Linked DNA regions of Homo sapiens. The protein of the gene in region 1 interacts with the protein of each later gene in a pairwise test. Each region holds a gene or a part of one and is shown on either strand. Other genes may lie near its edges.

Region 1 (7,260 bases):
GGCAGCTGTCCCTCTCCTGCAAGAGGAGGAGGAACTGGCAGAGGAGCTGGGGAAGAGCTGGCCACTGACCTCATGTTAGTGGGAGGGAAGGCATCGGTGATTTTGGCAGGTGCAGGCTCACAGGGTGGTGGGGGTGACAGCCTGCCTGGAGTGGGTTCAAGAAAGAAAGGCAAGGGGGAAATTGACCTTGCCCAGTGAAAACTCTTTCAGAAGGCTTTGCTGCAAAGGGAACACAGAAATGGGGCAGTGTTGAAGAAGGGGAAGTGAGTCAAGAAAGAAGGAACAGTAGTGCTGATGGAAATGATGCCAGAGAGATGAGACATTGCTGATGCAGGAGAGAGTGGGAGGACGGCCGGAGCCACATCGCTGAGCAGGCAATCAGCAAATGAATGAATGTGTGTGAAGCGGTGATAAGAGAAGCAGAGCAAATGGTGGTGCCTATTAGGGACTTAGGGGATCTGGGCAGGGAGGGCTTCTTTGGCAGGTGTCATTTTAGCAGAAACCTAGAGGTCCTGAAGGAGTAAGCCATGTGGATTCTGGGGAGAGAGCATTTCAGGAAGAAGAAACAGTCGGTGCAAAGGGCCTTAGGGCAGACTGGCTGGCGTACCGAAGGGAGAGTGTGGTTGGATCGGAGTGAGAAGGGATCATGGTGGCACTTGTGAGCAAACACCTGTGAAACATGCAGGACCTAGTGGGCCAGTAAGGACTTTGCCTTTTACTCAGCGAGACCCAGGACCCATCACAGGCGTGATGGACTCTGTTTTTTTTTTTTTGTTTTTTTTTTTTAGTTAAGGTCTTGCTCTGTTACCCAGGCTGGAGTGCAGTGGTGCAATCAGGGCTCATTCTGCCTCCTGGGCTCAAGTGGTCCTCCTACCTTAACTTCTCTAGTAGCTGAGATCACAGGCATACTCCACCACACCTGGCTAATTTTAGTATTATTTTTTGTAGAGAAGGGGTTTGCCATGTTGCTCAGGCTGGCCTCGAACTCCTGGCCTCAAGCCATCCGCCTGCCTCAGCCTCCTAAAGTGCTGGGATTACAGGTGTGAGCCACTGCGTCCAGCTGGGCTCTATTCTTCACAGAATCACACTGGTTGCTGAGTAGAGAATGGTATCAGGACAAAAGCAAAAACCGGGAGGTTGGGTGTGGTGGCTCACGCCCATAATCCCAGCACTTTGGGAGGCTGAGGCAGGTGGATGGCTTGAGGCCAGGAGTTCGAGGCCAGCCTGGGAAATATAGTGAGCTCCCATGTCAATAAAAAATAAATAAATAAGCAAAAGCCGGAGATTAAGCGTTACTGAAATGATCCAGAAGAGAGAGGGTGTTGGTTTGGAGAAGTGCTGGATTCTGCATGTATTTCAAAGGTGGAGCTGGTAGGGTTTGCTAAGGCATTAGGGGCAGAATGTGAGTCAAACGAAAGAGTCAAGGATCATGCCAGGGCGTTGACCTGAGCAACAGGAATCTCAGACATGCCCCTGACTGGGATGAGGCAGGCCAGTAGTCTGACCTTCAGCATGTCAAGTTGAAATGCTTATTTATCCAAGTGGGGATGTCAGATGGGCCACTGGATATTTAAGTATGGGAGAGGTCAGGCTGAGATACGTAAACCTGGGGACGGGTGGAAAACAGCAGGTGCTGGCCTGGCGCAGTGGCTCATGCCTGTAATCCCAATGCTTTGGGAGGCCGAGGCAGGCCAGGAGTTCAAGACCAGCCTGGACAACATGGCAAAACCCCATCTCTACCAAAAAATATAAAAATTAGCCGGGCATAGTGGCGCGTACCTGTAGTCCCAGCTACTCGGGTGGCTGAGGTGGGAGGATCACTTGAGCCTGGGAGGTTGAGGCTGCAGTGAGCTGTAATGGCACTACTGCACTCCAGCCGGGGTGACAGAGTGAGACTCTGTCTCAGAAAGCAAGCAGCAGGTGGCTTTTAAGGCCATCAGACTGGATGAGCTCACTTAGGGAGGGAGTGTGGTAAAGGAAAGAGGTCTGTATGCACCTCATGAGAATATCAACCTGAGAAACCCAGACCTGCCCTCTGCCAAGGAAGAAAGTGGCCCAGAGTTCTGGACTGTCCAGGAAATCACCTGGGGTTGAGGTCTGGAAGGGGCTCCGTTTCTGAAAGTGAAGCTGCCTACATGTGCCTTCCACTGGGCCCCAGGTGTGGGAGAAGGATGGCAGCCCCCTAGAAAGAAAAGAGTTTGCATATTTTGGGTGGCAAAAGAGCTTCACCCGGAGCAGCACTATTTAGGATATTTACATTGGATGTGCTCATTGTGAGGTGCCACTGGGATGGAGTCTGAGAGCAGAAGAGGAGCCACAGGGCCACAGTCTGAGAAAAATCCTGCCTCTATGGCATCTTCCAGGATAGTCTGCTTCCCTGGGGCCACATCATTGATTAATTAATAACAGCAACACGGCCCGGTGCAGTGGCTCACACCTGTAATCCCAGCACTTTGGGAGGCCAAGGTGGGTGGATCACTTGAGGTCAGGAGTTCAAGACCAGCCTGGCCAACATGGTGAAACCCTCTCTCTACTAAAAATACAAAAAATTAGCCGGGCATGGTGGCACATGCCTGTAATCCTAGTTACCCGGGAGGCTGAGGTGGGAGAATCGCTTGAACCCAGGAGGCAGAGGTTGCAGTGAGCCGAGATCACATCACTGCACTCCAGCCTGGGCAACAGAGCAAGACTCCATCACAAAAAGAAAAAAAAAAGATAATAAGAATAACAGCAATGCTAACATAGCAGTTCCCATGAGCCATGAGGATGTTCTGTTTGTATCTGCATAGTGATTTAATCCTTACCACTACCCTGGGAGTAGATCCGATTATAACCATCCCCTCCCCATTGCCTATGAGAAAACAGGCACCGAGAGGGTACGGGACAAGTGGAGGAGCTGGGATTTGCACCCAAGCGCTTCCTCTATGCTCTTAGCCATGATGCTCTGCTGCCTCAAAAGAACGGCCAGCTAGTGTTAGTAATAATAACATTTACCGATGTCATCGTTTGGGGTTTCATGTAGTCCTTGCAACAAACCTATGAGCTGGGCCCGTGATTCCAGTTTTGCAGAGTGGGGAGTTGGTCACAGAGCTAGTGAGACCAGGCCTCCAGCCCAGTTGGTCCGTCTCCAGGGCCTCAGCTCAGCACCACATCCCTGTACTGCAAGCCTCAGTGGTCAGCACCAGGCGTCCCATGGGGACTTAAGATTCCAAGGCTTTTGAGCACTGCTAGAAGTTTGGGGTAAGATCTTTTACTTTTTTTATATTAAAAAAATATATTTTTTTGAGATGGAGTCTCACTCTTTCGCCCAGGCTGGAGTACACTGGTGTGGCCTCGGCTCACTGCAACCTCCACCTCCCGGGTTCAAGAGAACCCGGAGAGGGAGAGCCTCAGCCTCCCGAGTAGCTGGGATTACAGGTGCCCACCACCATGCCCGGCTAATTTTTGTATTTTTAGTAGAGATAGAGTTTCAATCCAGGTGGGAGATGGGGTTTCACCATGTTGGCCAGGCTGGTCTCCAACTCCTGACCTCAGGCAATCCGCCCACCTCGGCCTCCCAAAGTGCTGGAATTACAGCCACTGCCCGGCCTGGGGTAAGCTTTCAATGTTGTAACTCCCTCCAGAACCTCATGGCCTATGAAGATGGCCAGGTGGGCCTGGGCCCAGGCTCTGAATGGCCTGCTGCCTCTCTCCTGGACACAGCATTCAACTTCCTGGCTGGGGCTGGGAGTGCAAAGATTTGTTTATTTGTTTCTTTTTTATTGAGACAGAGTCTCACTCTGTCGCCCTGGCTGGAGTGCAGTGGTGCAATCTGGGGTCGATGCAGCCTCTGCCTCCCGGGTTCAAGTGATTCTCGTGCCTCAGCCTGAGTAGCTGGGATTACAGGCATGCGCCACCAGGCCTGGCTAATCTTTTTTGCATTTTTGGTAGAGATGGGGTTTTGCCATTTTGGCCAGGCTGGTCTTGAACTCTTGACCTCCAGTGATCCACCTGCCTCAGCCCCCCAAAGTGCTGGGATTACAGGTGTGAGCCACCACTCCCAGCCTGGGAGTGCAAGGATTTAAATAAAATCTTGTGAAAGTTCAGTTTGGCTCCTTCAGGGACTCGGCCAGGCCGGGGGGCAGCACAGGAGACAGGCTGACTCCCCTGTACAGATGGATGGGGAAACACAGGCAGAGTAGGGACAGGGGACTTACACCAGGTCACACGGGGAGCCTGTGGATGAGGCAGAGGCAGGACTTGGGCCTGGGTCTCTGCGCTAAATGACTCCTGGGCATCCTGCTGAACTCTCTCCCAGAAGGAGATTGGCCTCACATACCCCACTGACCCCTTCCTAGCATGCTTTTTGCCAGACCCATTGAGACTGGCTGAGGACTGGTTGCCATAGAGATGGCCTGTTAGGCAGTTCTACGGTGCGGATGGGGGATGGGGCAGGATGGGGCAGGACACCGATATGCTAAATACCTACCAACAGTTGGTTAGGACCCCGTCGGTGCGACCAGGGCAGGACGTGCGGCTCCAGGCTCCAGGAACCAGAACGGGGCTGCTCAAGCTGCTGTCGACCGTCTCTCAGGACAAGCAGGTGAGGGAGGCCCAGTGAGGACACTTCCAGCTGCCTAGAGCCAGGTGGGTCAGGGAGGCCTGGGCTGGGGAGGCCCTTGAGAAGCCACAAGACCTGAGCTGAGGTCCAGATGAAACTCAGGGAGGCAGGAGTGGGACAGGGACCACAGGGAGGCCTAAGGGCCTTGGGAGAAGCCGAGGGATGACGCCCAGGAGTGACTCCCAGGGATGATGGGGCCATTCAGGGAACACTGCGGAAGGAGCAGGTTTCAGGAAAGATGAAGACCACCTTGATGAAGACCACCTTGGTTTCTGCCTTGGCTGTAGCAGGTCCAGGGCCCAGTGGGACATTTGGGAGTGCAGTCCAGGGCCCAGAGGTGGCCTAGCGCAATGGTGACAAATCTGGGCTCCACCACTTCCCAGCTGTGTGACCTCAGTTACTCAGCCTCTCTGAGCCTCAGCTTTCTCCTCCACATGATGGAGGTGATAGTGAGTACCGGCCTCCTAGGGTCCTTGGGAAGGTTACGTGTGTTTATGCATGAAAGTCCTGAGCACACAATAGGTGCTCAGCAGGTGGCAGCTGTTGCTATTTTAATATGCAGAACGGAGGTGGTGCTCGGTCGGGTTTTTTTGTTTGTTTGTTTTTTTGAGATGGAGTTTCACTCTTGTTGCCCAGGCTGGAGTGCAATGACACAATCTCGGCTCACTGCAGCCTCCAACTCCTAGGTTCAAGCGATTGTCCTGCCTCAGCCTCCCAAGTAGCTAGGATTACAGGCGCAGGCCACCACACTCGGCTAATTTTTTTTGTATTTTTAGTACAGATGGGGTTTCGCCATGTTGGCCAGGCTGGTCTCGAACTCCTGGCCTCAGGTGATCCGCCCCCCTTGGCCTCCCAAAGTGCTGGGGTTACAGGTGTGAGCACCACATCCAGCCCTGTTTGGTTGGTTTTTATGGTAACGAGGGCCCAGAGGGACCCAGCCAGGCCCAGCCAGGTGCACAGAGGGAGCACCCGGGTGAGGTGCAACACAGTCCAGGAGGCTGCTCAAGCTGGCTGCTCCTCCCCTACTGTCTCTGCCCAGGGCTGCCTGGGGAGTGGTGATGGTGTGCCAAATCAAGACCTGCAGCAGAGGTCTCAGAGCTCAAGGCAGACAGCAAAGAAGGACCGCAAGCCCAGGGGCCAGAGCAAGAAAGGACAGGGCTCTGAAGAGTCTGAAGAGTAAGCAGCAGTGGGATGGGTCAGGAGGCTGTTGGGGGTCAGGGCCCTCTGGGGGCTGGCGCCGACCCTGACCCCCACCCTTTCCTTCTTCAGTCACTTCCCGCTTCTTCCTCGGAAACCCTCCTTCCCCTTCCAGTGGGCCTGGGAGAGCATCGCCACAGATGTCCGGGCTGTGCTTCAGCCAAGCTCCCCAACCCCTGGCCACCAAGCCCTGCCCATGCCCTCCTCGTTCTCCCAGCGTCAGTCCAGGCGCAAGTCCACGGCCAACCTCCCAGAGGCCCATGGCTGCTGCTGGAAGACAGAGGCGCAAAACCTGAAGGCGAGACAGCAGCTGGGAGCCTGGGGCGGTGTCTCCATCCCTACTGGCAAAGGGGAGCTAGGATCAGAGCCCCCCAGTGGTCTCCAGCTGCCTGGGAGGAGGCCAGGATCAGGATCGGCGTCCGACAAGCAGGTCCAGCTGCAAAGCCTGGGTGCTGAGGAGGCCGAGAGGGGTCTGAGTTCTGGGGTGCTGCCCCAGCGCCCCAGGAGGGGGTCGATCTCAGAGGAGGAGCAATTTTCAGAGGCCACAGAGGAGGCTGAGGAGGGAGAGCACAGGACTCCCTGCAGAAGGAGGGCTGGTTGTCAGAGAAAGGGGCAGATTTCTGGAGAGGAAGCCTCCGATGAGGGAGAAGTGCAGGGCCAGAGCCAGGGGAGCAGCCCCAGCTTCAACAACCTCCGAAGGCGACAATGGAGGAAGACAAGGGCCAAGGAGCTGCAGGGGCCATGGGACCTGGAGAAGCTGCACAGGCAGCTACAGAGAGACCTGGACTGTGGTGAGCGTGGGGCTCAGAGCCTGGATTCCCCCGAAGCTACACCGCAGGGAACAGGGAGCAGTCAGGGAGGCAGGGGCTCAGGCAGGCTGGGCTGTGCTCTGGGTGCTGGGGGGCGTTGCCTGGTGGGCTGAGAGGGAGAGGGCAGCCCCTGACTTGGTCCCACTGTGGGCAGGCCCCCAAAAGCTGCCCTGGAAGACTTTGAGGGCTGCCTTCCAGGCCTCCAAGCGGAATGGAAAGGCCTATGCCTCGGGATACGATGAAACTTTCGTGTCTGCCAACCTCCCTAATCGCACCTTCCACAAACGACAGGAAGCCACCAGGTAAGAGGGAAGAGAAGGGAGTGGGAGCCCAGAATGAGAAGTAGAGATGGAGCCACTTCTCCAAGAGATGCTTAGGCATTTGAACTCTCATTCATTTCTTTATTTATCCATTCACCAAACTTTTGGATCATCCATCCATCCATCCATCCATCCATCCATCCATCCATCCACCCATCCATCCATCTATCCAACTACTGATAACATCCACTCAACCATTCATCCATCTCTCTCAATACCTGGCCAATTATCTATTGATACAACCACTTTTATTTCCCATCTTTTGTTCCATCCATCCATTAAATTATTAACTAAGTGATTAATGCAACGTTTATTATCTACTCATGGGCCCTTA
Region 2 (6,990 bases), on another chromosome or scaffold:
CTCATCATGCTTCCTCCCACTTCGGAGCTGCTGCGGAGGCCAAGGGCATTTTGGGGATGTAGCTGAAGGGGGATTGAGTTGGGGATGCCTTGGTTTGGGTTTAGTGGGGTGTGTTTATGTAGGTCTGAGCCAGTCTGTGTGGGTCGAGTTGTTGCTCCCTGAACAGGCTAATGGCTCCCAGGAGTGCCCTCCTTGCCATGGCACTGGCAATGTGTGCTATGGTGCCTGGCACCAGGAGTCTATGGGCAGAGGAAGAGACATAAGGGTTGAAAATGTCATTCTTCCAATAGGAGAGGTCTGGATTTGCAGACCCTCAGAGTCACAAGGCAACTGGGGGTGTCGCATAGCCCAGGACTGCTCAGCAGGAGTCACCTGGGGCATTTAGTAAAATGCTGATTCCTAGACCCTGCTACTCTGAGGCTTCAATTCAGTGGGATGTGGAGGAGCCTGGGCATCTGCATTTCTCCTATGCCTCTCCAGGTGATGGGCGCCAGCACTGAGGTTTAGGAGGTGTTAGTCGAGTCATGTTCTGGTTTGCAATTGTTCAGTTGCTTTTCATCATGAAAATTAATAAAATCCCAGTAAGAAGCCTGGAAGAAATAGAATTCTTCCAAGTGTTAGCATTCATTTATGAAAGAATGATAGACCTTTCTCCAAATTTGAAAACAATCTCAAAAAACTACCTGAGATTACCAATAATGAGTTATGAGGCTGACAAAGTTTTCCAACCAACATTAAAATTTGTTCCCATCATTATAGGAGTACTCTGAATTATCTATTTTCTCCACAGGAAAAATATTATAAAATCATTGGCTTCCAAAGAGGTAATCAAAAATGACGAAGAAGCAAAAAATGTAAAAAAAAGAAGATATTATAAAGGTGGATATCAGGTATCCAATTAATACAATTTTATATTAGTTTTATAATGTTTTCGCAACGTTTTTGATATTTGTCAACTTAAAATATTTTAAAATTTGTTGTGATTTGTTATTATTCTAAATAAGTTTTCATTTTTGTACCAAGTCTTGTACTGGGGTTTTTAAATTCTTCTTCCTAAGGGGGACTGTAGCGGCTCCAGGTTTTACAAAACCTGGATCTACTAACCAATAGTTGCCTGTTCAAAAGTCATTCTTCTTCTTTTCCTCACTAATGGAACCCTGACTTTGTTTCAGGCAGCAATGTACCTTCAATTAAAAAAAAACATCCTTGGCCGGGCGTGGTGGCTCACACCTGTAATTCCAGCATTTTGGGAGGCCAAGGTGGGTGGATCACCTGAGGTCTGCAGTTTGAGACCAGCTTGGCCAACATGGCAAAACTCCATCTCTACTAAAAATACAAAAATTAGCTGGGTGTGGTGGTGTGGGCCTGTAATCCCAGCTACTTGAGAGGCTGAGGCAGGAGAATCACTTGAACCCGGGAGGCGGAGGTTGCAATGAGCCAAGATCACGCCATTGCACTCCAAACTGGACAACAGAGCAAGACACCATCTTAAAAAATAATAACAATACTCCCAGCCTCCTCTGAAGCCAGGGCTGGCCATGAGACACCGTCCCAGCCAATGAGATAAAACAGAGCTCTCTGGGGAGAGTTTTCAGGAAAGCGGTGAAGTGGAGCTGACCTAGTGTGGGTATGCCTTTTGTTCTTCCCCTTCTTGACTGGAATAGTGATGAGATGTCTGGGAAGAGGCAGCCAACTTGCCACGTAGAAGACATTTTGAAAAAGAAAATTACATCCTGAGGGTGAAGGAGTGAGAGAGGATAAAGTGAGGAACAGCTTGCCTTTGCATTTCTTGTTAAGAGAGAATAAAAATCTGTTTAAGCCGCTGTCTAGTTGTGATCCCGATTACTCACAGCCAGACATAACCCTTAATCTACACACATGTATCGAAGTACCACCAGCTGGGCTTTTTAAACAACAGAAATGCACTGTCTCACTTCTGTAAGCTAGAAGTCTGAAATCAGGTGTCAGCTGGTCCACGCTCCCTATGAAGCCCTGGGGAAGGATCTGTCCCAGGCCGCTCTCATGGCTTCCGGGGGTTTGCTCCCATCTTTGGCATTTCCTTGGCTAGCTGATGCCTCGACCTGATCTCTACCTTCATGTTCACACGGCATGCTCCCGTTGCTTGTGTCTCTGTATCCAATTTCCCCCTTTTATAAGGATAGAAGGCAGACTGGATTAGGAATCCAACCTACTCCATTGTGACCTCATCTTAGCTAATTACATCTACAACGACCCTATTTCCAAGTAAGGTCATATTCTGAGGTCCTGGGAGTGAGCACTTCAACATACGAGTTTTTTTTTTTGAGGGGGTGGGTGGGGGGAACACAATTCATCCCAGGATACCTGGGCATTGTCCCTGATTGTCCCTCCCTCCCTCCTGTCCACGTCCAAGCCGTGAGCATGTCCTGCCAATTCTGCACCCAGATTGCTCTGATGCGCTGATACTTCACTGTATCAGCGTGGAGGAGGCCCCCACACTGCCTCCTTGTCCCCACTCTTGACTACTTCAGCCCATGCCCCAAGGGCAGCCAGGGCATCTGCTAAAGATAGTCTCACATCTGCTCACAGATATCCTAGTTCCTCCTGACCCCCTGAACCTTAGAGGTCTGCACTTCCTCCTCTTCTGAAGTTAGGCATGGCCATGTGACCTGCTCTGGCCAATGAAACGTGAGCAGAAGTGACGAGAGTCCCTTCGGGGAGGAAGCCTTCAAAGCCAGCATAATTGTCACCTTTCATTCACATTGCTGCACCATGTGGGTGCTCGGCTGGCAGACAGCCCCAGCAGCTTGGGCTCCCAACCACTCTGATGAACAGAGCCCCATTGACCGAGGCAGGATGTATGATGTGGGCAAGACACACCAGGGAGATTTGGGTTTGGTTGTTACTGTGGCTAACATAGCTTATCCTGACTGATGCACTTTAAAAAATATCAATCTGACAATGGTCCATGGGACCACCTTCCAGGTGAGACAGTCTCCAAACTCTCGCCAGCCTGCAAGACCTTGCAAGTGCTGCCCCTCTGTGCCCCCGCCCCCCATCTTCCACACACTCCCTCTCACCATTCTGTGGCCCAGATACTTTTATCAGATTCTCAAATATGTCCCGTTCACAGCAGTCAGGGTGTTCCCCCATGCTGCTCCCTTTGGTGGGTGCTCTTCCCTGCCTTCTCCTTGCTAGAAAGTAAGCTCTGGTGGGCAGCCGCTTCCTCTCTGCTGTTCACTGTGGTGTCCCCACATCTTAGTGACTACCTGGCACACAGCAAGTGCTCAATAAATATTTGTCTAATGACACTGAATGAATGTTTGCCCAGCTGAGTCCTGCCCCTCCCAAGTCTCAGCTCGACAGCACATCTTTCATTTGGCTATGACCTGCTGATGTGGCTTTGCTGGGGGCAGCCTGGGCTGGTGGGGGGAGGCTCCCTAGGCTGGCATCCGCCCAGCTCTGCCGCTTGCTGGCTCTGCCGCCGTTAGCGTGCGCTTTAACCTCTGACCTTCAGACCTCTCATGCGTACAGAGGGGGACATGGATCTCCGGGGTCGCTGCGTCTTCCTGACCACTGACGGCCAGGACGGCCCCAGCCCCGCTTTACCTGCAAGCCCCACTCCAGGCTCGAGCCCCCGAGGGCAGGGATAGCTTCCCGGGTCCCGAGGCTTGACCAGAGCCTGAAAGCTCCTGCCGGGGGTTGCTCCGACTCAGCGAGGCGCCAGGCTGCCCGGCGCGGCTGGGGGCGCTCAGCGCCGGGACCCCAGCCCTGCCCCGGCCGCCCGCTGGCCCAGTGCGCACGCTCCGGCAGCTCAGCTCCCCCTCCCACGGCGGCAGGAGAGCTCCCGGCATCTGCCCGGGGCGGGGGCGGGGGCGGGGCGGGGCGGGCGCCGCGCCCTCCTGCCTGACTGGCAGGAAGACAGACCAATCGGAGGGGCTCCCCGGGGGGAGGGGCGGTGCCGTGCCTGAGCCGGGCGCGGGCGACCGAGGGAGCTGCAGCCACCCGCGTGCGGCACGCGCCGGCCGCCTGCCCGGATCGCGGCCACCAGTGCCGCGGCCTCTCGACTCCCGCCCCGCCGAGCCGCGCGCGCGACTGCCATCCTCCTCAATTGCTTTTTACGATTTTTTTTGTGCATGCATTCATTTTCTGTTCCGTTTTGTCCTTTTTAAGGCGGTGGCGGCGGCGACAGCGGCGTAAGCTCGCAGCGGGGAGGGGGCGGCCGGAGGATGCGGCGCGGGGCTGCGCTCGCTACGTCCGCTGCTGCTGCCCGGCTCGGGCCTGAGCGCCGAGCAGGTGGGTACAGGTGCGCCGGGGGGCGGGAGGCGAGCGCTGGCCAGAGGGAACCCGTGGACCCGGCGACCGAGGGGCGGACCTGGCGGCAAGGGACGCGGCGACCGGTGCCGCCCCGCCCCATCGTCCATCTCCCCCTCCTCCGGCCATCGCGCCCCCTCTGGGTCCCCCTTCCACTCTCGCATCCCACCTCAGTGGTCCCCCACCCTTCCATACCCATCCCCCACTCCTCTTCAGACCCCCTTGCAAAATCTCCCAGCCGCTGCGTCGCTTCCCCCAACACCCCCTCCCGGTCCCGCCCCCAGCCCCCAGCTCTCCTTCACGCCACCCCTATTTCCACTCTTCTCCGGATTCCGCCCTCAAGCCAAGGAGCGGGAGGGGGACCCACCCGGTGCCTGCCGGAGTGGCGCGGGGGGTGTGGCCGGCCCGTCCCCTCCGTGTCTTCCGCAGGGTAGGTCACAGTCCCCCAGATCTCCGCCCAGGTGGCAAAGAAGATGGAGCTGGGGGCCGCGCCCCGGCGGCGCGGGGCCCGAAGGCGAGGCCGCCCAGCCCGCACCCCACCCCACGCACGGCACACGCCGCCGCGGCCCCTGCCACGCACACCCTCGCGCTGCTCCGCCCACGTGGGCGCCGGGGAGGAGGCTCGAGAGATGGGAAGAAAGGCTGGCACCCACCCTCCTGCCGGGCCGGCGCGCCCTGGGCGCACTGGCCTCCGGAGATGGCGCGCAAGGATTGACTCTCGTGGTGCCAGACACCTTGCCGGGCGCCCTGCGTCGGGGCCAGCGGCCTCGCTGGCCTGCGTCAGTGCGCTGCGGCCTCGCCTCCCAGCCCCTCGGTCCTTCGCTCCATCCCCCCTGCTGTGGGCTCCTGAGCATCCGGCCTGGGCAGCCCAGATAGAGGCCGCTTACGAGGCTGGCGCTTCTTTTCGCCTTAGAAGCATCCCGCTCCCACACACCCCAGCTCGCCGGTCTCCTGAAGGCTGGGCCAGCCTCGGCTCTCCGCCAGCCTCTGCCCGGCTCTCTGAGCTCCAGCGATACTGTATCTAACCGCCAGCCCTCCTCCGCCGCCCGCCCCATCTGCGCACACTCGCAGGCACACTGTCCTTGGCCTTTGCCAGTGCTGTGCTCTCTCCGCGAACGCCCTAACTTCAGCTGGCCAGCTCCTTGTAGTCAGGGAGATCCCCTTGCCCCTCCTGAGCTTTCCTGGAACGTGGCGCTGTCCCAGGATGCTGTTACCATCTGATGGCCTCTGCCTTCCAGAGCAGAGGAGGAGGTGGGGAGGAGGGCAGGGGCAGCCTCAGCCCCTCTCCCAGGGCTCCACCCACAGTGAATGTTGGGCATAGCAGGGCCATCCCCCCTAAGTCAGAGTAACCCGCTGGTGTGGAGGGCGAGGCCATGGGAGGAGCTGGCCCTTCCTGTAGCACCCTGGGCTGGTGGGTGGTGGCTCCACTAGCTGGGATGGGCAAGGAGGAGGGACACATTCGGGGATAGAGTGGGGGAATTAGAATCCTTTCCTAGCAGGGCATTTCCACCCTCCTGGAGACCTGCAGCTCTGCAGAGACTGATGTTGTAGCGCACAGTGGAGGCTTGTGGCTTGTTGCAAGATTTTTGTTGCTGTTGAGGTGTGTACCGGTCTGTAATGCTGAACATCTCTGCTCTGGAGTCTGGGGTAATTCTTATCTGTAGTCTTTTTGCAGTAAGCAGCTCCCAAAGGCTCACAGTGTGGACCCAATGCATGAGATGACTGGCATTTTCCTCCTTCACAAACCACCCATGACTCCCACCGCCCCCACGACCTCACCAGTTCCTCACATCCTGGCTTCCCCAGCCCATCTCTCCCCTCTCCCTGCCACAATGTCTCAGCCACGCCTGCTGCCTCTGTGTTGCGTAGACATGTCTTCACACTTGGGTTTTTCCCCCACATGCTTCTTTTTCCCCCCGTCTAAAACAATGCTCCCCTCCCTTGAGTATGTGGAGAACGATTCATGATTAAGCCCAGCTCTCAGGTTCCATCAGTGTGATTTTCCCAGACTCTGCCGGAAAGATTGTGTGCTTCTCTCATTTGTGTTCTCAGAACTTTTTATACACATACAGTGTGATATTTGTTTGTGTAGTTTTTCCTTAAGCAGATCTTGCCCACTAGAGACTGGGGACACGGGACACAGTGAGGTGGCCTGAGAGATGGTCCCACTTTGGTGGGGGCTCTGTTTTCCTGGGGAGGTGACCACACAGACACTGCCCGTGCTGTCAGAGAGTCATGTGCAGGGAGAGATGGGGACAGGCGGCCCGGCCAGGAAGGCTGCACGAGGAAGTGGCAGGACCGTGGCCCCACTCTCTTGGTGTGTAAGGGTGGATTGGGCTGTGGGACAAGTGGCAGAGGGAACAATTTCTAATGCTTAAGCCAGCAGCAATTGCCACTGCAGGCTATGGCTATCTGTTTAACTCCTCGAGGGTGGGACCTTGTGTCTCTTCAGGCTCTGAGCCAGACTGCCAGGGTTCCCATTCAGGCCCTGCCTCACTTAGCTGTGACTGGGCAAGTGCCTCCCTGCTGGGCTTTCTAACTAAATGGGGGCTTCCCTTGGGGAGTCTGAGGATGACTGCAGTGTGTCCCAGTTCTGCTGGGTCACTCCTCTCCCCATAGTGGCGACGGGATCAACCTGCAGGGCTTCTGAAGTTGGACTTGCCTGTAGTTTATCCCTTGTCATTGTGTGATCTTGGG

What was found. The genes of interacting proteins can lie anywhere in the genome.
Region 2: the proteins of TSGA10IP (region 1) and JAKMIP1 interact in binary tests that used the Homo sapiens proteins (3 or more experiments, as listed by UniProt).

The regions. Positions count from the first base shown.
Region 1 is NC_000011.10:65,941,241-65,948,500, forward strand, and holds the start of TSGA10IP (testis-specific protein 10-interacting protein), read left to right. Parts: upstream 1-4,239; 5' UTR 4,240-4,435; coding exon 4,436-4,582; exon of another isoform or gene 4,583-4,626; intron 4,627-5,639; coding exon 5,640-5,776; intron 5,777-5,869; coding exon 5,870-6,588; intron 6,589-6,760; coding exon 6,761-6,908; intron 6,909-7,260.
Region 2 is NC_000004.12:6,197,538-6,204,527, reverse strand, and holds the start of JAKMIP1 (janus kinase and microtubule-interacting protein 1), read left to right. Parts: upstream 1-3,978; 5' UTR 3,979-4,275; intron 4,276-6,990. UniProt on the Homo sapiens protein: Associates with microtubules and may play a role in the microtubule-dependent transport of the GABA-B receptor. May play a role in JAK1 signaling and regulate microtubule cytoskeleton rearrangements.